Linked DNA regions of Homo sapiens: all the other regions are linked to region 2. Evidence: fine-mapped expression QTL. A gene starts in region 2. Each other region holds a variant in brackets. All regions are shown on one strand. Distances are between the middles of the regions.

Region 1 (4,088 bases), 200 kb before region 2:
TGGAGAATGTCCTGATGTCACCAGATTCATGCCTGAGATGAAAGCCTTAGGATTCAAGAGCCCAGCTCTGTCCTTCTCCAATGCAGCCTCAAACCTCCTGCTGTTCCTGGCCCCGTGCTAGCATCCCCTTCCCACCATCACAGGATACCCTAAAGGCCCTGATAACAGACATTTCCATATTACTGGGCTCACGCCTTCATGGTGGACCTCCTGGAGGTGGGCATAGCCCATGCCCAGGTAGAGAGGAGCAGGAAGGCATGGGCATGTTTGGGGAGGTTGAGAGAGACCAACCTGGCTGCATCAGATAGAGAGCACCAGTGGCTGGTCTGGCTAGGAATCCAGGTCGGGGCCCTAGAGTGGCCACATTTACTTGCTTTTGCTAAGGTAATTTCAGGTTTGGTAAGGCAATGAGTGAAGATCTGTTGGGCAGGTGGTCTCTTGGTGCCCTGTAATCACGTACTTGAGTCTGCCTCCCTCATCTCACCCCAGTGGTGACTCATAAATCAACACCAAAGCCAGTTACGCTGCCATCCGGCAGAACTCGTGCCCCAGACACCTTGGGAGGAAGTGGAGCCAGAAGTGAGAACACTCTCTGAGGGTGAAAAAACTCCAACAGTTCTTCTGTTCTCACGCCGCGCCACAACAATCAACACAGAAGGCTTCTACGACCAAATGTGTGGGGATTTCTCCCCACCACCGAGCAAACTGCCCAGACATGGACACCGGCATGAACTGGGGGTCCTCCAGTTAAGTTCTGACACTCTCTACCTGGAGACAGCGTCAGATCCCAGGGGTTGGGGGCTTAGTCCCCCAAGACCACCCCTGACCTTCAGACATCACTCACTAGTACAGGCCTCGGGAACTTCTGACAACCAGCTATAAATTGATAAAGACCCCCTCTTTATTAATTTGCTAGGGTGGCTCGCAGAACTCGGGGAAACCCTTAGGTTTACCATAAAGGATGTTACAAAGGATACAGATGAAGAGATGGATAGGCGAGGTATAGGGGAAGGGGTGCGGAGCTTCCATGCTCTCCCTGAGTGTGACTCTCTCCGGGAACCTCCATGGGTTCAGCTACCTAGAAATTCTTAGAACTGTGTCCTTTTGGGTTTTCATGGAAGCTTTGTGACATAGGCAGGATTGGCCATTGATGGTCAACTTAACCTTCAGCTTTTCTCCCCTCCCTGGAGTTCAGGGTGGGGCTGAAAATCTCAACCCTCTAATCCTGCCTTGGTCTTTCCAATGACCAGCCTCACCCTGAAGCTACCTAGGGGCTGCCAGCCATCAGCCAACTCATCAGCATTCAAAAGTACATCACTTTGGAGATTCTAAGGATTTTAGGAGGTGTATGTCAGGAAATGGATTCAAAGGCCAAATATTTATCTCATAATATCACACTCCTAAACTCATAGGACACTGGCAAGGACACCAAGCTCAACTCCTCCCCATTTCTGAATCCCTGGGCTCCATGCTGCGCCTATGGCTGCTGCACAGTTGTTCTGAAGGGGCCCTGGCCTGCATGTGCCTGATGCACACAGCTGGAGGGTGTCCTGCAGAGATGGGACCATTAGCTGGCAGGCATGTGTGGTGGAGGGGACAGGGGAGCACGTGCCATAGTTCGATTTATTTTTAGGTATGTGGGAGTCACTAAAGGCAGTAAGCAAGGGTGTGATGTAATCAA[T/C]TGTGCATTTTAAAGTGATTGCTCCAGCTGCCTGTGGAGAATGGATTGGAGAAGGGCCAAAGGGCACTCAGGGGCGTCAGCTGGGAGGCTGTGCTACAGTTCCCAGGAAGGATGTGGCTGCAACAGTGACAGAAAACACATAAACAGGGCAATGGACTATAGGGTGTTCGTGCAACCAGACACACCCAGCCAAGAGTATCTCACCTCCTGCAGGTCAGATGCAGACACCCTCTAACCACTGGCATTTTGGCCTCTGGAATGAGCCTGGTGGTGATAAAGTCTGGAGGGCCACAGGTGACCATATGAGCCACAGGATGCCTCAAGACCAGAGACATCCTCGCAGAATCAACAAGAGGAGAGCAAAGGACAGGAAGAGACTCAGGCAAAACTTTTGTCTGCACAACCAATTCCCATCTTCACCACCTGAACGCCACCCCAGATGACATATATGGGGCTGCTTTTGCCATCCACATGGCTAGGACAGTGTATCTGTAGTTGTCAACAACAATCAGAGGACCATATCAATTAAACCAGGAACTTTTCCATGTCGTTTCGACTGAATCATATAAAGGTAGACAACATCGCACTATGTTGGTGCACAGAGCACTCTGAAATGATTCATTTTTCGCTCCTTTGAGGCGAAGGCAAACCTACAAGCAGAACAAACCGCATCCGGAGAGGAAGTGATAAAGCTCAGAGGAGCAGCAAGAATAACCATGGCGACAATCTTGCAATTTAGAGGCTGCAAATAAGAGAGATATTTACTTTGGAAATGCAACTGAAAAAAAGAAAAGCTGCAATGACAACAGCATAGCAACAATCTTCTCCTCTGGGCTCAATGAAAAAGAAATGACAAGACAATGAACCATCTCCAGGGGCTGTATGTAAATCCAAGATTTCCTTTTGACATAACAGTGTGAAAGATCATCAGTGAGGAAGGTGAATCATTCAGGCTTTTAAAATAGCTTTTTATTTTGAGATCTTGTAGATTCACCTGCAGTTGTAAGAAATATTATATTCTGTGTACTCTTCACCCAGTTTCCCCCAGTGATAACACTTTGCATGAGGAAATTGACATTGAAACAATGGTTCAGTTTTGAGGAAGTATCAGATATCAAAGAGATACTTTGTCATGTTTGGATAAAAATGTAACACTTCTGTATTAAAAAAAAAAAACTAAAATTACAAGAAAACCAAACAGGAAAAAAAAAAAGCTTTTTTATTAATCCTAGCAAGGAGTTTATTCTATACAATGCGTATGTTCACATTTACAAGAAAAACAGTGGCCTTTGAAAATATTTTGATGGCCTGTAGAGTTATAACCAGAATCACTGCAATGCAGTAATATTTAAAGAAATGTATGAGGCAACACTGGATGAATTTACTGATTGAGATGTCATTGTTTTGAGGAATTATTGTTTGTGGCCTTTCTGAAATCCTCCATCACTACCTTTTACATTCAGGAACTCATCAGGCCCTTCCAGCATTACATTATAAGAAATATAGTGTATCATGCCTGTAATTCCAGCACTTTGGGAGGCCGAGGCAGGTGGATCACCTGAGATCAGGAGTTCAAGATCAGCCTGATCAACAGGGTGAAACCTCATCTCTACTAAAAATACAAAAAAAATTAGCCAGGCATGGTGGTGGGTGCCTGTAATCCCAGTTACTCAGGAGGCTGAGGCAGGAGAATCACTTGAACCCGAGAGGCAGAGGTTGCAGTTAGCTGAGATCATACCACCGAACTCCAGCCTGAGCAACAAGAGCTAAAACTGTCTTTAAAAAAAAAAAGAAAGAAAGAAATATAGTGTATCTTTTTCCTGATTCATTCATTCAACAAATATTTATATACTACTATTGGCCCACTATTTTCTTTAGGGGAAAACAGGAATGGCCCCCCCAGAAAGCCCTCTGGGGAGCTGAAATTCTAATCCATTATTGGTTTTGTCTCAACTATAATTGCCCTTGTTTAGAATTTCATCATCTTCCAGAGGAGTCGCCCTCTGTACAGTCTTTCCCCACCCCTCAGTTTATTCTCTGCATTGCTGATCCTTCCTCAACAGACACTGCTAATTATGTCAGGTTTAGGGTCAAAATCCTTCCCGAGTTTCTATCACTCACGCCCCCGACTTCCACAGGGGGCAGTTCTGAGCTCCTCTGTGGCTCTTAGTCATCCATCCCCTACCTTCCTGTGTACCTCCTCATTCATCCACCTTCTTCTCTGCCCACACAGCTGGCCCAGGCTTCCTGTCCAGGTGCATGGTCCTCCTGTGCCAGGGGATGAGTTGGGGGCTGGGTTGGGAGGGCTCCTCTTGCCTTTCTGCCTGAAGAAGCCCTACTCATTAACCTTTAAGTCTAAACATGACCTCTTCTGTTGAATAAAATATAGAAAATTCCATTTAGTGGG
Region 2 (4,088 bases):
AGGGTCCAAACCATCTGGAAGATGTCTGATTCCAGGCTGAAAAGCAGTTCTCAACAAAACTGGTCTTCTGCAGCCACCACAAAGCACCAGGAAAAGGGCACCTCCGCGGCCATCCCCAGCCAGGCCAGCACAGCGCTCCGTGCCCGCTGAACCGTCCCAGGCAGTCCTCTGATGACCCAAACCACCACCACCTTTGGGCCCAGAGCAGGACAAATGAAATTTCAACAGGGGCCTGCCCTGTGACCGAAAATTACTCAGCTTCACAGCCCCTGAATGCAAGGAGAGGTGGTCCCCCCAGAACCAACATGCCCCCCAAGGTGGGTACGCCCACGGTTCTGGGAAATGCATACCTCAGGTAATTCACAGGTGCGATCCCCCAGTGGAGGCGGGGCAGCCTGAACTTCTGGCCCTGCAGGAGTGGGAAGAAATCGCTTTTGTCTTTCCGACAACTGAGCCTTCCACCTGGGGCTGGGAGGGCGGACAGCAGGACCGGCTCTTCCACTCCCCACCGCGGCCCCCCGACCTGGTCAGTAGCTCTGGCGTTCAGACAAAAGGTCCCCTGAGCTGGGGGTGGGGGGCAGGTCGAGAGTAGGCCGGTAAATCAGACTTCGCAGCTCCTTAAGTCACCAGTCCTGCATTTGGGTGCAGAGATTCCGTTTTAAAAATTCGAAGCATCGCTTTGGTTCGCTCTTTGTTCGCGGGCGCGGGTTCTCGCTCATCCATCCATCCATCCATCCAACCATCCATCCATCCATTCATTCTTTCTTGACGCACTCGCTCGCTCCCCGGTCGCTCCGGGCGCATTACCGCTTCTTCTTCTGCTTGAGGGACTTCCTGCGTTTCAGGATCATCTCATAGAGCTTGTCCATGCCCTCGGTGAGGCCCTCGCCGATGATGGCGCACGCCGGCTGGACGTGATAGGTGGTGGCCGGGATAAGCTCGTGCAGCGCCAGCTGCTTCTCAATCTCTGCCACCGGCAGCGACTTGGGCAGGTCCTGCTTGTTGGCGATGACCAGCAGCGGCGTGCCCTGGTTCTCGGCGAACTTGGTCACCTTGTGCAGCTCCGTCTTGGCCTCCTCCAGCCGGTCCACGTCCACCGAGTCCACCACGTAGATGATGCCGTCCGTGCAGCGGCTGTAGGACTTCCACAGCGGCCGCAGCTTCTCCTGGCCGCCCACGTCCCAGAAGTGGCAGCTGATGCCCTTGGCCGTGCCGTTGCTCAGCTTGATCTTCTCGGTGTTGAAGCCGATGGTGGGCACCGTGTTCACGAACTCGTTGAACTTGAGCCGGTAGAGCACCGTGGTCTTGCCGGCCGAGTCCAAGCCCAACATGACGATATGCAGGGACTGGAAGGCCGAGATGTTAGAGGAGATGTTGCCCATGGCTCCTGGCTGCGGCGCCAGCCACTGCGGCTGCGGCGGGAGGGCGCCGCCCCCCGAGCAGTCACGGGCCCGACGCGGCCGGGCGCACCTGGGCCCCGCCCGCCGCCGCCCGCACCGGCCCCGGGGCTCGGCGTCCCCGCGGGCGCACGGCTTGGCGCGCTCAGACGCCGCAGTCCCCGCGCCCTCGCCGGCCGGGCTCGCGATCGGCGGGCATCGCGTCTCTACGCGCGGCTTTGTCTCCCGCGAAGCCGCCTCAGATGTTCGGCGCCCTCCCCAGGCCTGGGCTCGCTCTGTGGTTTCCTCGGGCCGCGCCCCCGCGCTCCGGCAGCTGCCCGGGCTCTCCGCTCTCCCGGCGCCCGGCGCTCGCCTCTGGCCTGGGACGGCGCTGCTCCTGCTCCTGCTCCCGCTCCCGCTCCCGGAGCGCGGGCTTCCCCGGGAGTCGCTGTCCGCTCGGCAGCCTCACAGTCCCCGCGCCGCCGCAGCAGCCGCCAGCCTGCAGCGGCCGGAGAGCTCCCGGACCCGCCCCCTCGCGCCCCGCCCCGGACCCGCCCCCGGACCCGCCCCGGGCCCCGCCCCGCCCGCCGCCGGGGGTCAGGCGCGGTCCTCCCCGCCCAGCCGGCCGTTTTCGCGCGCTTCGCTGCGTCCCCGCCGCCCCCCGCCGCCCCCCGGCCCCTCCCGCGCCGCGCCGCGCAGACACAATGGGCGCGGAGCCGGCTCTTCCTCCCCAGCGGCTGACGCGTTTGCAAAAATAGCTCTCGGCTCCCGGAATCCCCGCCCGGGTCCTAGCCCGCCCCCTGCCCCTCCGGGCCGCAGCCGTGGGCGACGCAGCCTGCCTGAGGGAGTGGGTCCCGGGGTCCCAGCTCTGTGGGCGCGAGGCGGGGCAGGGCGGCCCCCAGGGTGACTGGGAGAGCGCCGCTCTGGGGAGTGAGGGCGGCGAGGCTGGGGCCTCCAAACCCCAGAAGGGACGGGACGGGGCTGGCCTCGGTGAGCTGCCAGCCTGCGCTCTGGATCCAGCCGGGCGCGTCCCCTCCCACCCTCGCGCCGCGGCTGTCGCCGGCCCCGGCCCCCAGTGACGCCCAGGCTCGCCTCCTGCCTGGGTTCCAGGGGGCTGCACCCGGCCAGCGCCGCCCTCCGGAGCCCAGGCCTGTGCCCAGGGCACCCTGGAGGCCCAGCCTTTCTTGCCCGGTGGCGGCGGTTGGGGCAGGGTCGGACCTAGGCCGCGATGGGGGATTAGAAGACCTACCTGCCCCAAGTAGCTCGGACAGCTCACCCTCCCAGACACGCCTGGGCTACCTCATTTCGTCCGCATCGACTCTGCTGACATCCCAGGGGAAGCGTCAGCATTTCGGGAGAGCACCCCTTGCCACCCGACTTTGGGAACTGAGAACCACCTGCCCGCAGGTGAACTACTCCGCAGAAATGGCAACACCAGCCCCGGGGGCTGAAAGAAAATGTGTCTACAGCTTGGAGCTGGTGGCGCAGTGGGTTACAAACACTGATATTCCACGGGTTCCACCTCCTGTCACCTCAGTTCAATGGTTTTATTCTGGTTTGTAAACATGTAACAAATGTATATCCTCTCTGGGTGCGGAGAAAAGTGAGAGTATATTATGGCAAACACACAGATCTGGGGAGAGCTGCTCCGCAGGAGACAGCAGGCCGCAGCATGGGCGACCGCATCTTCCCAGCTCTAGCTTATGAGACAGAAACGACGGAAACGGGGTCAAGGGAGAAGAAAATGAAAATGCTAAGAATTTATGAATAAAAGCTAGAATTTTAGAGAAATACTTTATCACCTTCTGTTCACAAACCACGAAAAGACATATGATATCGTTGGTACCAAAGCATGTGAGAAGACCTCACCTGTAGAAGGAAGGACAAGCCACCACCACCCCTATCCTTGGAATTCCCAAGGTGGCAGCCGGAGCGACCATCCACTCTACTGAGTGGATTTGGGGCTGGAAACGAAGTATCAGGCTGGAAAGGACCCTGCCTATCATTCCACCCAACGTTGTCCAGTGAGGTAACAAGGCCTAGGCGCCCGTGACGGCTAAGGCAGAACCTAGAGGCCCACTGCCTGCTCCAGGACCAAGGGTCTGTATGCACAAAACTGGGCACCTGCCTGCCCTCTTCCTCACATCCCACTCTACCCACACGCTATTTCCTTCAATGAGGAATAAAGTGAGCCACCCGAAGGATAGAGTTCAACAGAAAATATTGGCTGCACTGTGCCACTTACTTCATTTTAAATAAAAATGGAAATGTATTCACTGACATCACTGAAAAGTTAAGGATAAAGGTCCTCTTCAGGCATGGCTAGACCCAGGAGCTCAAAAGGAGTCTTTCGAGCAGGTGTCTCTCCAGTCCTCCTCCGTGTTCCCCTGTGTTGATTCTTTTTCCTTCTGGCAGCCTTGGACTCACATCCTTGGTTTAGATCCTGGAAAGGAAAAGGTACAACTCTTTCCCAGTAACTCTAACCAAAGCCTGGAGCACGCACCCTGGATCAAGGACTGCAGTCCAGGAGGAGGGAACACACCAGTGGATGTGGCCCAGGGGTTGAAATCGGGAAGGGTGGTTCTCCAAGAAGAATCCAGGATCTGTCACCAAAAGAGCAACTCTAGTGAGGCAACAGAAACAACATATGTTGGCATAATTCATAATGATGATGTTTCCGTTATTGGGAACCCTGGGGAGACAGGATTTTGT
Region 3 (4,088 bases), 71 kb before region 2:
ATTACCTTACCCAGGCCTATAAGCTCCTTGAGAACAGGGAACGTATTTGTCTAATTTTCAGGACCAAATGCAACATCCAGCCTCTAATTGGGGCTTAATAGGTATTTGTTGAATAAATATTTCCAGTGTCATTGATGCAATATTCTGACAAGTAGAAAGATCAAAGCTGGGAAGACGGGGGCTGGGGTGGAAGGAAAATAAATGACGTTTTGATTTTTTAAAGGAACAAAACTTTAGATAAGGCCAGTTTCAAATCATCTTGGCTTTGTTGTGTTTTCATCTCTCCAGAATTGGACTTCTGTGCTCAATTCAATGAAAACACTCAGAGCACAGATTGGGATCACGGACTTATTTTCAAAGCATGTTCCCACACATATTAACAATTGCTCAAAATTAACTGTAGCATCTGTTTAAAGTTGAATCAAATTGAATTCTCTATTTATAAAAATGGAGTTTACATAAGAGAATGGAAACCATGTACAGACATTTAGCATGACACTTCTGCTTACACCATTTCAACAAATAAAAAGAAATTATTGTTCTGGGAGAAATACACATTCCAAATCTTTGTAAAATGAAACCCTTCAAAATTAGGAAATGGAACAACTCTTTTTTTTTTTTTTTTTGAGACAGTCTTGCTTAGTCATGTTGCTCAGTGCAATGGCGCGATCTCGGCTCACTGCAACCTCTGCCTCCCGGGTTCAAGCGATTCTCCTGCCTCAGCCTCCTGAGTAGCTGGGATTACAGGCACCTGCCATCATGCCCAGCTAATTTTTGTATTTTTGTAGAGATGGGTTTCACCATGTTGGCCAGGCTCATCTTGACCTCAGGTGATCTGCCTGCCTCGGCTTCCCAAAGTGCTGGGATGACAGGCGTGAACCACCGCACCCCACCAGAAATGGAACAACTCTTAATGAGTGACATGAGCTACCAGATAAAGGAACACTATATAAATTTCAGGGTCCAGGGTCCTAGAAGTGCCTGGAGCTGAGCCCCTGCTCCCCAAGTCTGTACACATGCACCCTGGGTGCTCAAGCCACAGGCCCTGTTGTAATGGGAAGAGAGAATTCCCTCTTGCAGGAAAGCGGGCTACAAAGATGAAGGGTGGTGGGTGGCAAGAGAGGCCCGGACACACCCTGGGCCCAAGCCTCACTGGTAATGGTTGGAGGGTGGTGGGAAAAGCCATAGGAGATTCTGGGGGAGGTCACAGGGATGGGGGTGAGAGCGAGCTAAGTGGTAGCCAGTGGCGGGGCCCCTGGTGGTTGGGTTTTATTGGGAATGAGGCCGGGCAGGGAGTGACTATAAGACCCAGCTGGTCGTGGCAGAGGTGGGAAGGGAATTTAGGGAACTTGCTCTCTTGGCTTCATGTCTGGGGACACAGCACGGGTGAGGCTGGTGGGTGGGTTGACCTGCTGGTGGTCCCTTCAGACCCCTGTCCCAGTTAGTCCCTGGGGACCCGTCCCTTTGGACCTGACTCCTTGGGGTTGAGTTTCCCCTTTCACCTGGCCAGGATTTAGCATCTTCTTCTGGAGGAATGAGGAGGTTTGGGTGACCTGCCTCTTCCTCTTTCACCTGGCCAGGCTTTAGCATCTTCATCTGGAGGAACAAGGAGGTTTGGGTGACCTGCCTAGTGCCAGGGCAGGACGACTGCCACCCTGAGTCATGTTCTGCTGGTGTCTTTCAATTAGGCAGGAAAGCTCACTTCACAAGGAGCTTCTGTGTCACTGGAGTTATATGGAAATGAGGACATCAACGCAGCCCTCAGGGGCATGCGGGAAGAAGCAGAGGATGGGCCAGAGAGGGTCCTCCCTACCCTCCTCCCAGGTTTGGCCCTCTAGGCCACTCTACCCACTGCATACAGGGATGGGTGTGGTGCCCAGTTCCTCACCCTCTGGGACATAGAACTCCACCTACCCACAAAACCCACTTCCTCAGAAGCGTTAGGGCTGCCTCGGTGCCCTAACTGCAGGTGTGCAGGGCGGGGCTGAGGAAGAGGCAGTTAGGGCTGAACCCAGCAGGAGGGAAGCAAGCTCGCCCAGCTCTAGGTTTCTTGTGAACCCTCAGGACCTGCCTTTGGAGGCAGGTCCTGAGACTGCTGGAAGAAATGAAAATGATGAC[G/A]ATTACAAAGATGAAGGGAGAGAGTGTTAATGAATCACAGATCTTCCTTCCCCTATCAGGTCACCTTGTGTCAGTTTAACAATGACCACCCCCCCCCCAAAAAAAAAAAGCCACACACACACACACTGAGAAGGGAAACACTTTGTTTTTCTGCACTGTCTGAGCTCCATCAGATAATGGAACTGCTGAGCTCTCTGTTCTGCCACTCCACATTGATGGATTTCATGGCAGAGTAACACTTTGGAAATGAAAGTTTCTCTTCTACTTCCTAAGTGAGGGAGACCCAGAATCCAAGAAAGGATCCTTGGCTCAGGAAATCATCTGCCATCGGTGGCCAGGGGCAGCTGGAGCGTCAACATCTAACCTGTGGGAAGATGTACCCTCTGCAATAGGCCCCTCTGCCCCATCCCCAGAAGTCCCCAAAAGTTTCCAGGAGTGTCAACAGATGGGGGAGGGATCAGCCACTCTCACCCTCTGAACTGTGAGGGTTTCTCTTCCCATTTCTCTAGGAAGCAGTGGCCATGTTGTTGCCCAAAGCAGATGTCAAAAGAGAAACTTAGAAGAGGCTTCTGAGACTAGCAACCCTCCCACTCAGGATGGAACCAAATTCAGGGAGCACGTCTCCCCACACAGCTGAAATTAATGCAGAGGTGAACGCCTTCTCCCTCGGAAGCAGAGCAAGAATGATTCTTGATTACACTGAGCCTATGGAACAGCCCCCACTGTTCAAGAGCCAAGATTAGTGTGAAGCACCTCTCAATCATTTAAGATTTGATTGTTTAACATGAGGCTGGGTGGGTTCGTCTCAGTGCTGATGTCAACAATCGACCCCATCGTCCACATGGCTCCCTGGGTTGCACCATGAGCCAGCCACTGCTGCTTCTGGGTGCCAGGCTGTCCGGCAAATCCTCTGACCCCCGTCTCTCCCTTCTAGATTTTTCTGAGCTGCCACTTCCTCTCACCCTCCAGGCAGGCAGAGCCTGAAACCCCCTCTCTCAGAAAGGGTTGCATCAAACTCATTTGATGCACACAAATTCACCGAGGGAGAATCCTTTGACAAGCAGGCTCTGGGGCCCTGGGGCTGGGGCTTGAGAGCCTGGGTCTCTAACACACCCAGCAGTTGCTGATGGCGGGGCCAGAGCTGGAGTGGCCAAGGTTTTAGAGCAGTACTTATGGTGGGTCTCTCTCTAGCTGGGCCATCCTTGAGGCCATCCTCTTCATTTCAGATCAGTTTGCCCCCTCCCCATTTCTCAAAGCTGCTTACTGTTTGCTGGAAGGGAAGGCTGGACTCCTCCACCCCACCTTCCACCCCCACCTTCCTTTCCCCTCCGCCCCACACCCGTTTCTCTGCTCCCTAGTCTGTTTCCTGTACAACTTTAGGACATGGCCTTCATTCATGTTACCTTTCTGTTGTTGTTTTTTTATGAGCTTTAGTTAAGATAACTAATTGCTGCAGACAAAACCAGCTCAAAACAATTTAATCCACACTTTGAGAGAGGGAGAAAGAAATGCACTCTGCAGAGGAATCTGAAGAATGTAGAGAACCATCCAATCAACGACTATTCCAAGCATTTCCCTGAGAATGCAAACTTCCACCCACCTCAAGCCCTCCAGGAACTTGCCATTTTCACCACATCACTATGCAGCGTCACACCAGGAAGTACCCAGAAAACTTCGCACGATCCTCCGGAAGCCTCACCCCTTATCGGTGACCACCCTTCTGCTATATCCAGTCTTTTTCTCAGCATAAGTGTTTTACATACTTGATATCAGAGTGTAATTTAAAATCTATTTCTTGACTTTTTTACTTAATAAGTTTTTAACTGTCACTAAAAATTCCTGAAAAAATGTTGTATAACTCTTTCCGTTATTTACTTAATCATTTCCCTATTGTTGGAGACATAGAATCCAATTTAGGATTTGTTTTGTGGAAGGTTTCTTTGTTGCTGTTTTTTGAGACGGAGTCTCGC
Region 4 (4,088 bases), 59 kb before region 2:
GGGGTGACGAGCTGCAGAATCAGGTTCCTCCCAGGCAGGCGGGTCTGGAGAAACCACACCAGAATGCCTGTGGCGCCGCTCCCCCCGAGTCCCTGCTCCTTCTCCCTTGCATAACAGGGCCCTGCATGTTGGCCCAGGTCAGTGCACACACTTGGGCTGCCCCACTGGAACCCTTAGGCACCACACAGTGTATGGGGGAGCCCTGGAGTCCCTGTGCTGGCTGTCCTGAGCCCCAGACCCCACACGGACACCGAGTGGGACGGTGCAGTCGCTCCACATCCCTCCACACAGAGGCCACTTTGTGGCGGGTTCCACCTGCCCTCTCTCTCCTTGACTTGCTTCTTTCTTTGTCAAGCAGTGCACTGTCTTGAACTCTAACATCAAAGTATTTCTTTGACCTGTCCTCCATCTGAGTATAAGTACCACAAAGACAAGCATTTGTTTTGTTTACTGCTTTTTCCCCGGCTCCTAGAATCACCCCTGGTATATAGTAGGTGCTCAATAAAGGTTTGCGGGGGGAAGAAAGGTAAGAAAGATGGAGGGAAGTCAAGAGAGAGGGAAAGGGAAAGAGTGGGGTTTGTTGGTTCCTCCTTGAGTGATACCACCCACCCTGGGAGAAGCTGAAAGCTCCACATGCTGTCCCTCCCCAGTGACAGGGACCATCCACGCTGTGGCCTCCAACTCAGCTGCCTCCCTTCATAGGCATCAGCCTTGGCTCTGAGCCTCACCCTGGCCTCTTCTCCCTGTGGGTGCCCCTGCTCATGGTACCCGAGGGAACACCACCAGCAGAGAGTGCAAGAAGCAGACCAAGTGAGGACCTTCAAGCATGCATAACCACAGGCACCATGGCACTGCTTCTCTTGGTGGAAGAGAGAGCAGGGGAGAGTGGTGTCCCCCGTATTTGGTTCCTATAAATTCTCCTGATCTGTCTGCATTCACAGGCTGGGAAAGACCCTCAAACGGGCTGCAGTGGCCACCCTAAGAAGTGTTCTTCTTCTGCTTCAGACCCATTTCTTTCAGGACCATAAGCAGCTCTGCTCCTCATCTCCCACGCTGTAGACAGGGATCCCTGGTTGGCACTGTTTTCTCTGTCCCTAGGATGCCCGTGTCCTTTGGCTGCAGGCTCCCACCACCCAGCCCTTGCTCCCTGCACAGGGTGGTACTCAGTGAATATGTGGTAGCTCTTCTTGGGTTGAAGAAGAGAGGGCAGAAGAAAACCTGCCCCTCCACTTGCTTTCTTGCAGTGGCTTGTCTCAGCTTGAGTGCTTCCCTTCCCAACTGACCACATCTGAGGCTTTGCTTTGTGCTCCATCCATTCAAAACCAAGCGACCAAACGATGCTTCCCTTGGGGATTTTCTTTAGAACAAAGACCATTTTCATCAGCACTCTTTTCTCCCGCTCCTGGGTTCCTTCCACCTTTCATGAACTGAGCCCCCTTCTGAAGTAAGGCGTGGGCACCCTGAATGGAAATGGCTAGATTAATGCGCATGCATGTCCACACTGGTGCAGGGCACCTGCTTTTCTGGGACAATTGCCATCTGGAATCAGACGCCTTCCTCATTGTGTGCCTATTTCTGGACAAAGAAGAGGAGAATTGGACGAGAAGCAGGCCTCCTCTCCCACATCCTCCAGCCACCTGGCAGGCCCGACTAAGACACCCGCTCCAGCTCAGGTGGTTTATGTGGCTCCAGTGAGTGGGGCAAGTGGGGCGTTTCATCCCAACCTTCTGCATAACAGCATTAGCAGATCAGACACTCAGGTCTGGGACAACATGTCCTGAAGGGCATCTCTGGGTTCCCCCTCCAGGGCCTTGGGTGCTGCCCTGCCTCCTCTGCTGAAGGCTGCCTACCCCCCACCGCCAGAGCAGCAGAGTTCCCTTCAGTAGCTTTCAGGGACTGGAAGGATAGTGGGCTGCCTCTCCCCACAGGTAAGGCTACCGTTGGTCTCCTGGCTCTCGGCGGGCTGGGGGCCCATCCCTGGATAGCAGCTACGGGGAAAGACATGGCTCTGGAGATGGAGGCGAGAGTCAGATGCTGAGACCTCCAACAATGTCCGCTTGTGGAGGCTTTACTATTTATAACACTTTTGTTTTCTACAATGAATAGATAATGCTTTTAGAACAGAAAAGTGAAACGTAAATCAACTCCGCAAGAAACAGGAAGCTCAAAATTTAGATCCGAATAAGTCTTTCCACCCAGGGCTGGTCTAG[G/A]GATAGAAGAAAGACTAATGTTTTTGGTAGGAGAGGAAATGGAGGTGAGGGGCTGTGCTGGAGAAGTCAGCCTGCGGGGGGCGGGGGCAGGCGGGGTAGAATTTCAATTCTGCTCTCAATCTTGTTTTCTTAGAATACAATAAAATATTTTCACATAAGATACTGGTCTGGAGGGCAGGCGTGGTGGCTCATGCCTGTAATCCCAGCACTTTGGGAGGTCAAGGCGGGTGGATCACCTGAGGTCAGGAGTTCAAGACCAGCTTGACCAAAATGGTGAAACCCCGCCTCTACTAAAAATGCAAAAATTAGCTGGGTGGGGTGGCGGGCGCCTGTAGTCCCAGCTGCTCAGGAGGCTGAGACAGGAGAATCGCCTGAATCCGGGAGGTGGAGGTTGCGGTGAGCCAAGATCGTGCCATTGTACTCTAGCCTGGGCAACAAGAGCAAAACTCCGTCTCGGTGAGGGGTGGAGAGAAAAGATACTGGTCTGGAGTGATTTATTTTAGAAATATCAGATTCTGTTAAGTTTTTTATAAATTGTCTTTGGGAGTGATTGAAGAAATAGTGCGATGTTTTGAATAATCCAAGATCTAAATGTAAACACAATTTAATAAAATTAGAGACAAGGAAAACTATACATGGGGAGACTATATTACTCTTGACAGGAAATCACTGTGTATGTGCAATTATATTCATGTATTTGTCATTTGTATCTATCATATATATATATATATATATATAACCTAGGGAAAGATACCATACACCTAATCAAATGAAAAGTGATAAATTGGAAAAATATTTTCAGCACATGTCAGACAAAAATATTCATATGCCTATTGTACAAGGAGATCTCACAAACTGATAAGAAAAACCGATGATCAATTAGAAGACAAGGTCAAGGGGAACAGCTCATGCTTCACTTGACTTGGTGATTCTTCAGTAACGAGGGATCCCATCCCATCCATATGAAGAGTTGGCTTCATGGGAACAGTTTGAACCCTTTTTGGTAATATGGGGAGAGGCCTGGCCCAGGGTGCTGGGGACCCCCAGTAGGATTGAAGGGAAGACTCTTGGGAGCACCCAGACAATGGCCAAAGGGGATCTGAAAGAAAAGTTTTCAGCAGCGAAGTCACAGGGGGATCAGGTGTCTACCAGGAGAATGTGGCTGGGCAGGAAGCAAGTGCACACTCTGGAGTGTAATTGAGTAGGTCAAAATCTGTGCTGTTGTTCCCTTGCCTGCAAAAATAATTCCCTTTCCCCTGTTCTCCTCCTTTTCGGAGGCTCTGTCACTGTCCCTCTGTGCCCACCTGGGCTCTCTCAGATTCTTGCTATGGGATTATCCTCGCTAGCGTCTTCCCACCATCAGCATGGACAGGAGGGATGGGTGTGCAGGCCACATGAGCCCAAGAGGAAATGGTGCTTGGGGATACAATTCTCATGAGACCAACATGTGTTTCCTATGTGAGGAGGTGGCCAGGGAACGGTGGCCATAGTCGGCAGGGAGCCTGGGTGACCACATGACACACTAGGGCTGGTAGGACTGCCCAAGGTTATAGATGGTGCTTGTCTTTACTGATGCTGGTGGGCAGCCCGTTGCTTAGTTGACCAACCAGACAAATTCCAACACCCTTAAGCCTGCAGCACTGCCCGGCTTATTTCTGAGCGAAAGTGGTTGTGACGTGACAACCTGTAGAATCATGGCATCCACCCATGCATACTATCTCAGCAATGGCACTGCTGTCTTTCCAGAGTGTAAGTCACAGGCCCACATTTATCCTCGACACCACCCTCTCCCTATGCCTCAGAGGCAGAGTGACCACAGAGTTTATTGTCCAAACTGGACACTTGGGAGAGTAAAAGGAGGATGAACCCCGTCTCTAC
Region 5 (4,088 bases), 510 kb before region 2:
CACAGGCAGCCAGCCAATGTCATGATGTCCAAATAGTGTCCAAAAGTCAGAGGGGCCAACATCTGAGCTGCAGAGAGAAGCAGCAGGTTATGGGTGATTATGTCTCCACAAGAGAGGGAGCAAAACAGACCAATCCCAAAACCTGAAGCAAAGGCGAGGGCGAAGTGGGATGGCTTCAGGCTTTTCTTTACAGTGATAAGATGTCATAGCTACACTGGATAGTCCTGTAAGAACTCACCACTAACTATATTTACAGACATTAAACAAAAAGACCAACAGCTCCTAAAACCATGGCCTTTGAGTTATGCTAACTTGGTAAATCTCAACGAGGCACATGGTAAAATATTTAGAGCTTTTTTGAATCTATGCACATGAGCTGTCTGAAGGAGCCATTCATGAGAACCGGGCACTTTTGTAATCCATTACCTGCATTTTGATAATGAAATGATTGAATTTGGAGCTGAGAAAGATGGGAGCCTCGTCTGTCACTTTCAGGTGAAGGAGATGAAGTCCCAGCAGCTCAGCGTCTGTGGTCCTGGCCGCGCGTTATCTGGCTTAACTCAGGTCTCTTCCCCACGAGGCCAGAGCCACTGCATCACATCCTACTGTTGCCCCAGTCAGTGCTTAAGTGTGACAGCTTGCAACATCCCTGTCCTTGGGGAACCTCCTCGATTAGCTCCGGCTTAAACCAGAGGCCTTTTCCTGGCTAATACCTGTCTGGGGACACCAGAACAGCGAGAGACGCCGTGTTGTTATCCTTAGGTTAAATCCTTGGAACACTGTTTCTGATCATTTTTAAAGTTGTTCAGGGCTTACTCTGTGAGCAGATGGCCCCAGGATGTGACCCTTCCCTGGCACCACATCAAAATACTCATTTAAAAGCTTAACCATACACAATGGCAACCTTATTAACTGCAATGCAAATGTACCTTTGGGAATTCTGAAGGAGTATTGGAGTGCTCTCTAGATGGTATTCAACAGAGAAAGGAAATGGATGTGAACATCTGTGATTATTCTACATTAAAATTATCGATCACAGGGCCTGTGTGGCTTATCAGCGGCAGGAAGTGAATTTAAAGTCAGTAAATGACTCCAGGTCGACTTACCAGGAGCTAGGGCATTTATAAGCATTGTGCCCTGAAGATAAGTTCACCCCAGGCAGTTCTGAAAAGGACTCGTCAAACATGTCCTGCTGTAGAATAATTTCTAAAAATGTTTTTCAGATCTTAGGAGTAATATAAACATGCAGAAAAGTAGAAGGAAGAAAATAATGACCTGATACAAACTAAAGGTTTGAGTGCTGTGTGAACAGTCTAAGGGAGGTTATTGAATTGGGGTGAAAAGAATAGAAAGAAGAGCGCAGATAATTGTAATAGTAACAATAGCTAATATTTATTGAAGCTTTCCCATGCTGGGCACAGGTTCAAGTGCTTTACAGGGGTCGCCTCATTTAATTATTACTCATTTCTGTGTAGGTGTGTAGCCGGTGGGCTAGTTCAGGTTCTTGACTTTGGGACAGAAAATAATTTGAAAGTGAGTCAAAAGCAAAAGCAAGCAAGAGAGTTGACTGCAAAGCCAAAGTACACTCTAGCAGCCGGTCAGAACGGGCCACTCAAAGGCAAGACAGCTCTGTCTAATACTGGGGGATCTCCCTTTATGGGAAATTTGCATGATTATTCATGAAGGGGTGGTAAGGGGTGTTGCTATTAAGCATGTTAGGAGTGGTTTCTTAGGTCCACATGTGCAGTGGCTGTACATGCTAGTACATCCATCGCATGTCTTATAAGCATTTTAAATCTCCACCTGGGGGTGTGTTTTTTACTATTATAATGAGCACAGGTCAGCCCAAGGACACTAATCACGGGTTTCTGTGCTTGTACAAATGTGGGGATTTTTCTCTTCTGCTCCTGCCTTTTTGCTGTAGGGTGTTCTAACCACGAGCTCAGGATGC[G/C]GTCTGTGCACTGTTAGGTGGTTTGTTCTCTTCATCAATTTGACAAGTTTCTTGTTTCCTGTCAAGGGAGGCTCTGACCACCTCATCTAACCTGCCTCAGGTGCAGCCTTATTGCCATTTTACACGTAAGGAGTGGGAGGCAGAGAAAGGTTAAGTCCCTGATATTAAGGGAAGAGATGACATGGAAACATATGAATATAATATATATAATATAATGTAATACAAACAGCATGGAGAGGCTATTTGCAGAGGAGGGAGTTATTAATTGTGAGATTGTTGGCTGGGGGAGCCTAGGATCTGCAGCAGCAGCTAGGTGGAGGTGATGTTTGCTTGAAAGATCATGTACCCAGAGCCCCAAGTGTTGGTAGGAGAGGTAGAAGCAGGGGAGATAATGTTAGTCTAGGGAGGAATCAGCAGCCGGGGAGGGTGGAAATGTAGGCAGGGGCTAGGTTATGGAGAGTCTTTTATAGTATATTAAAGAATTTGGACTTTTTCCTGAAGTTGAAGAGAAATGTCATGGGTCTTCGTGCAAGTATATGGCACAGTCTTAGTTGGTTATTCTGTTAGCAATATACTAACCTGAATTATCAATTCCAAAATCAGTGTGATCCAATCGCTTGTCATCTCTTACTGCTGGCTGTTGTTGGCTTTGTACCTGCTTTTTTGATGTTGCAGAATGAGAGGGGAACCAGGATGTGTTACACAGTTTAACATACACACCAGCGCATCAGAGAGAGCGAAAAGTCACTGTCACCACGGGCCATGGGGCAGTACTGGCTAGATACTGCCTGTGTGCTGGGGAAGGAGCGACAAAGGAAAATCCATGAAATCTACGCAAAGTTTGGAGGAGGTGTCCATCTGATAGGGAATTAGCTGACAAGTTTCTTGTATTTCAGTGTATTTGAAAATTCTGCCATTGTTTTAGCATCTACTTTTTCCTTGTGAATTTTTTGCAGACTTTGCATTCTGTTCTGTGGATCTGTCTTTGTATTTTGGTTTTTACTACCAAATGGCTTTGATTACTGAAGTATTTTTTTCTTTTAGGCGTTCTAACATCTGTTGTACAAGTTTCCCTCATTATTCTTATTCAAAACTTTTCTGGCATTTCTTGTATATTTAATTGTACAGAGGAGCCTAAGGCTTATCTTGTGGATTCTTTCTTCTTTCTCCTTCCCCCAAAAATTCTTGTGAATATTATTATGATGATGTTAGGTTTGTAGAATCATTTAAGGGAATTTGGCATCTTACTATTGAGAAGAAATGCTATGATTTTCATTTATTCAAACATATATAATTTCCCAGTAAAGTTTTATGGTCTTTTTCATATGGATCTGGCAGATTCCTTGTTAATTTGTTTCCAGCCACTTATGGTAGGGGGAAAAAAGTAAGGTACTTTTTCTATTATGTTTTTTCAGTGACTACGTTTTGGTACGTAAGAAGGTTATTAAAGTTTTCCTTATTTATTCTGGAATGAGTCTCCTTACTAAATTACTTTTCTTTTTTTTTCTTTTTATCATGTCATGGAAAGTTCCTCCTCTTTTTTGTTTATTAAGCTCCTTTCTCTTTCTCTTCCTAATCAGAAAAGGATGTTATATGTTGCCAGAAGATTTCTAGCAGTTATTGAAATGCTATTTTTCCCTTTGATCTAGTATTATGATGCATTGTACAAAAGATGAATGACATAAATGTTCTTAATATTTAGTCATCCTATTCCATGGTCATGGTGTGTTATTCTTTTAAGGTACTTCTGGACTTCATTTATGTACAAAGTGATCTGAATTCTAAACGTCTGTTCCCTCTTGGTACCATTTCCACTCTCAGTGAGTTTCTGAACTGCTGTCCCTCTGCATGGCCTCTCCTTCCTCCTCCTCTCCTGCTCAGCTGGTTTCAGGAGATGGACCTCAGCTGTCACTGCATGTCTCCAGCCAGCTAGGTGTTTGCCAGGGACAGGACGCCAAGGGCACAAGATATCGCTGGAGATGCACAAAGGGAAAATTGCAGAATTCTCTCAGGGACAACACCAGATGGCCACTGGTTGTCAAGGAGACTTTAAGAACCATCTCAGATGGGGCGGGTGAGACCCTGGGCATGAGAGATGGTCTCTAAGCTGCTACAATGCTTGCTTTGCTGAGGGGGT
Region 6 (4,088 bases), 330 kb before region 2:
TTTCTTCTCCTATTTCATTTACAACAAAGGATCACAGTGATTACCTTACCTGGAGACCCACTCGGGAGCCCTGGAGCCTCAGGAATAAGGGGGAGAAGACTGAAGGAGACTAGCCCGGGCAACACCAAATCCAACTGGAAGCCACGGAGGCAAAGGCTTCGGTCTCGTGGGCACCGGTCCCACCTAGGGATGAACTCAGCTGTGAGCCAGACCTGGGTCACCAATGCCAAGACACTGAGGCTCTCTATATGGTGACCTTCTTATGACCTTGGCCGTGTCCTGGGGGAGGATTTGTGAGTTTCTCCATGTAGGTGACTAAATCACAAAAGAGACAAGGCACCTTGAAGGCCTACTGGGGCTTTGATTACTTGAGGGAAAGACCACCCCTTGCAGGCCTTGGGCAAAACCTTTAGCTTCTGAAACACACAGCAGGGGCAGTTGTCCCATCAGAGCAGCCCAGTGGTGCAGCGCAAAGAAAGGCTTGATTTTGAATACTGGCTCTGCCACTATGAGCAAGTCATGTAGCCCTTCAGAGTCTTTGCCTCCTCATCTGTCAACTGGGCTAACGGCACTCAGCTGAGAGTCTGGTACTGGGGTAAACGAGCCGCTGCGCCGTGACTGCACCGTGAGGGCACTGGGGTGATGGCTGGCACGTGGTTTCCTGCTTCCTCTGAGGCCAGTGCCAGGTCTCAAGGGATGGCTGTCAGGCACAGATTGAATATAAGGGGGAGGAAGAAAGTTCAGTTCCCCTTTGAGATTTATCTCACCTCTTTTTTCAGCTGTTTTGCTCTTGTGACTACTCTTGGGGTCCGCTGAACTGGAACCTAAAAGCCAGGAGCTGAGAAAAGCCTGGGGGCGAGGCTTTAAAATCGCATTGCCAACTCTGCACTGATGGATAAAAGTAGGTGACTCAGAGGTCCATGGAGATCATGGGCGAGCAGCCGAGGGTCCATGGAGATCATAGGGAAGCAGCCAAGGCTGCATCCATCCCTCGGGTTCCCTTTCTTTTTTTTTTCCTTTTTGTTGTTTTTAGGGGTACATGTGCAGGTTTGTTATATGGGTAAATTTCGTGTAGCAGGAGCTTGGTGTACAGATTATTTCATTACCCAGGTGATAAGCGTAGTACCCAACAGGCAGTTGATCAGTCCTCACCCTCCGCCCACCCTCCACCCTCCAGTAGGCCCCGGTGTCTGTTGTTCTCTTCTCTGTGTTCACATGTACTCAGTACTTAGCTTGCACTTATAAGTGAGAACATGTGGCATTTGCTTTTCTGTTCCTGTGTTAGATTTCAGCTTCCATTGCTCACAGTGTCCCGCCCACCCCCCACCCCCCAAGCCCCCCCTCCCCATCCCCACTTGTCTTCCCCTCCAGGAGGCACCATCACCGGCCCTGTTTCTGTGGATGCCCCAGGGCTGGATGGGGACACCCAGGCCCTCCCCTTTCCTGTGCCTGTTATTCCGGTTCTCAGCCTCGCTCAGCCTTCCTTGTAGCAAGCCACTAGCTCTTCTCCTTGCTTCCATACTTGCCTCCAATCAACCCAACCCCCTTGCTCGGCCTAGTCAGTAAATATCTGAGAAAAATATTTCCGAGCAGCCATGGATTGAAAG[G/A]CAAAGAAAACATTGAAAGGCTCACATTCTGCAGCTGTGGGAGACCACATTGAACATTCCACCCATTCTCTCTCAGATAGATGCAAGGCCCATAACTTATTCTGGTCTAGTTATTCAATTTGTGGTTCTACCAGAGTAATTCCATTTCCCATGCTCTCAGAAATATTTTAGAACAAGAACAAAAATAACCTTATGTATGTGCACACATACACGCCACCCACAAGACAAACTGGATGTGTATAGAAGATTGCTCGACTTGGCTCTGGAACACTTTTAGATGGTATCACTTTATTACACAGTGATGGGGGTCCCACATGTGTTTCTAGGTAGCATCTGGTTTACTAATAAGAGTTTGAGCTGTTTAGGGAAAGAATCGGGACATGAAGGAGTTGGAGATATTTATGTCTAGAAAGAAAAGACTTGTTCATGTGCACCCTGGGTGTGCAGGGTGCAATGGGAACTGGAGGTGTGGTGAATAAAGACCATGACTCTTTGAAAAAAACTGGAAGAGCTGCCATGTGGCAGGCACACAGACTGACTTTACCATAGAGACAGGTTGTGAGTGATGGGAAGGCAGATTTTTGTTAAATATAGAGAACAATGTTCTAATAACTATTGCTATTAAGAAACAGAATGGATTACTTTACGAGGCATGGAGTCTTCTGTTCCTAAAAGTGTTTAAGCTGAGACTAGAATTCTGCTTTGGTTATCTGTTGCTGTCCAAAAAAATTAACCCTAAACTTACTGACTTAAACAAAGCCTTTTTAATTTATTTTCTCATGATTCTGCAATCTGGGCAGGGCTCGGCAGGGGCAGTTCATATGGCATCATCTGGGTGGCTTGAGTGGGGCTGAGGGATCCACTTCAAAGATGGCCTCACTCATAGCTGGCAGGTTAGTGCTGATTGCATCTAGAAATTCAGCTGGGGCTGTGGGCTGGAGGCCTCAGTTTTCCTCCATGTGGCCTCTGCACATAGTTAGGCTGGCTTCTCAGAGCATCATGGTCACAGGTAGTTCTTATGCTGTGTCTACCTTCATCCAGACAGAAGAGAAGTTGCTAGGCCTGATTGACGTTTAAGCCCAGAACTGGCGTAGCTTCACTTCTGCAACATTCTGTTGGTTGAAGCAGGGTCACTGGGCCAGAGCAAATTCAAAGTGAGAGAACCACATAAAACGTGAATACATCATTGGAGTCCACCAAAGTTATGCTTTATCACAATGCCCAACTAGCTTTATAATACAGAACATTCATTTTCTGGGTAGAAGGTTGAAATGAGTGATCATTGATGCTTCTTGGAACTCTAAAACTCTCTGGTTAAATTTCTTTTCAACCTCCAGTGCCTAGTACAATCACAGGCACATCATGATCATTAAAACAGTACTTATTGATTGATTGATTTCACACATTTTATATTTTCAAGCTGAGACAGGGCCTCAGTCAATATCTCACAGGAACATAGCTCTCTGCAAAATAGAATGCCATTTCAAGCCAACAAATGATTACTCTTCATGCTGTAGATACAAACTTGGTCCAAAGTAATTCGTTTTGCAAATGCTGTTTTTAGACACACACGCACAAATCACTCTGGTTTATAAAATCCATGGCACAATGTAAGGAAGGATGGGAAGGTATATGCTGTTACATTACATGTATACTTTGCTACCTGAATTGGTTTTTTTTAAAGGTAAAATTTCTGTTTATTATCAATGTAAAACACACTCACTATGGCAAATGTATATGAAAATGAGCACACAAAAAAGAAAAAGAATCACTTATAATGACTTATAGGTAACTACTCCAAACTTTTTATGCATATTTTAATATAGATTAACCTAATAGGTTTATATTATTATTTCATTTAACTTCACCGTAACTTATTTTCTATGATACTAAAAAATTCTATATTGAAATAATATATTTTGTGTCAAAATATTTAATAATATTAAAATCCTTACACTTTTTTTTTTCAAGATGGAGTCTTGCTCTGTCATCCAGGCTGGAGTACAGTCACGCAATTTCAGGTCACCCCAACCTCCGCCTCCCGGGTTCAAGCAATTCTCCTGTCTCAACCTCCCGAGTAGCTGGGATTACAGGCACACACCACTACGCCTGGCTATTTTTTGTATTTTTAGTAGAGACGGGATTTCACCATGTTGACCAGGCTGGTCTCAAACTCCTGACCTCATGATCCACCCGCCTTGGCTTCCCTAAGTGCTGGGATTACAGGTTTGAGCCACCATGCCTGGCCACAAATGCTTTTTAATTATTGCAAAATATATATAATTCTGCCATATGGAGATACCATAATTTACTTATTGTGCTTATCTTAGGTTTAAAATTGTTTAAAAATTGTTAACACTAAATATCATCATATTATACATTTTTCTGCATAAAGACTTATTTAGAAATATGAAGGGGTGGGTTGCCCCTCCACACCTGTGGGTGTTTCTCGTTAGGTGGAATGAGAGACTTGGAAAAGAA

Direction of the effects. Alleles are on the strand shown, and positions count from the first base shown. SD is a standard deviation of normalised expression in the study named. Not every link is listed here.
For the expression in tibial nerve of the gene that starts at base 1,877 in region 2, allele A in region 6 goes with a higher level than allele G (moderate effect, 0.51 SD a copy in GTEx).

What was found.
Region 1: its variant is fine-mapped to the expression of ARL4C in whole blood (TOPMed, PIP above 0.99). The same link has a PIP of 0.9 or more in left ventricle.
Region 3: its variant is fine-mapped to the expression of ARL4C in whole blood (TOPMed, PIP above 0.99).
Region 4: its variant is fine-mapped to the expression of ARL4C in whole blood (TOPMed, PIP above 0.99).
Region 5: its variant is fine-mapped to the expression of ARL4C in whole blood (INTERVAL, PIP above 0.99).
Region 6: its variant is fine-mapped to the expression of ARL4C in tibial nerve (GTEx, PIP 0.97).

Annotation. Positions count from the first base shown.
Region 1 is chr2:234,290,309-234,294,396 of GRCh38, forward strand. The region is part of intron 2 of LOC105373933 (a long non-coding RNA gene); the gene reads right to left. Among named protein-coding and RNA genes, the nearest start is that of LINC01891, 160 kb to the right of the region's middle. RefSeq lists an enhancer at 655-704. The variant T/C (reference allele first, on the strand shown) is at 1,682.
Region 2 is chr2:234,495,205-234,499,292 of GRCh38, forward strand. It overlaps ARL4C (ARF like GTPase 4C), which reads right to left and starts at 1,877. Exons shown (of 2, transcript NM_001282431.2): 1 at 808-1,877; 2 at 1-632. The coding sequence starts at 1,382. The coding sequence ends at 602. RefSeq lists silencers at 1,455-1,554, 1,665-1,954 and an enhancer at 2,139-2,912.
Region 3 is chr2:234,424,168-234,428,255 of GRCh38, forward strand. No RefSeq gene overlaps it. Among named protein-coding and RNA genes, the nearest start is that of LINC01891, 28 kb to the right of the region's middle. RefSeq lists an enhancer at 3,290-4,088. The variant G/A (reference allele first, on the strand shown) is at 2,119.
Region 4 is chr2:234,436,588-234,440,675 of GRCh38, forward strand. No RefSeq gene overlaps it. Among named protein-coding and RNA genes, the nearest start is that of LINC01891, 16 kb to the right of the region's middle. The variant G/A (reference allele first, on the strand shown) is at 2,211.
Region 5 is chr2:233,988,767-233,992,854 of GRCh38, forward strand. The region is part of intron 21 of TRPM8 (transient receptor potential cation channel subfamily M member 8); the gene reads left to right. Among named protein-coding and RNA genes, the nearest start is that of SPP2, 60 kb to the right of the region's middle. RefSeq lists an enhancer at 1,761-1,810. The variant G/C (reference allele first, on the strand shown) is at 1,952.
Region 6 is chr2:234,164,048-234,168,135 of GRCh38, forward strand. No RefSeq gene overlaps it. Among named protein-coding and RNA genes, the nearest start is that of SPP2, 120 kb to the left of the region's middle. RefSeq lists enhancers at 1-641, 137-637. The variant G/A (reference allele first, on the strand shown) is at 1,608.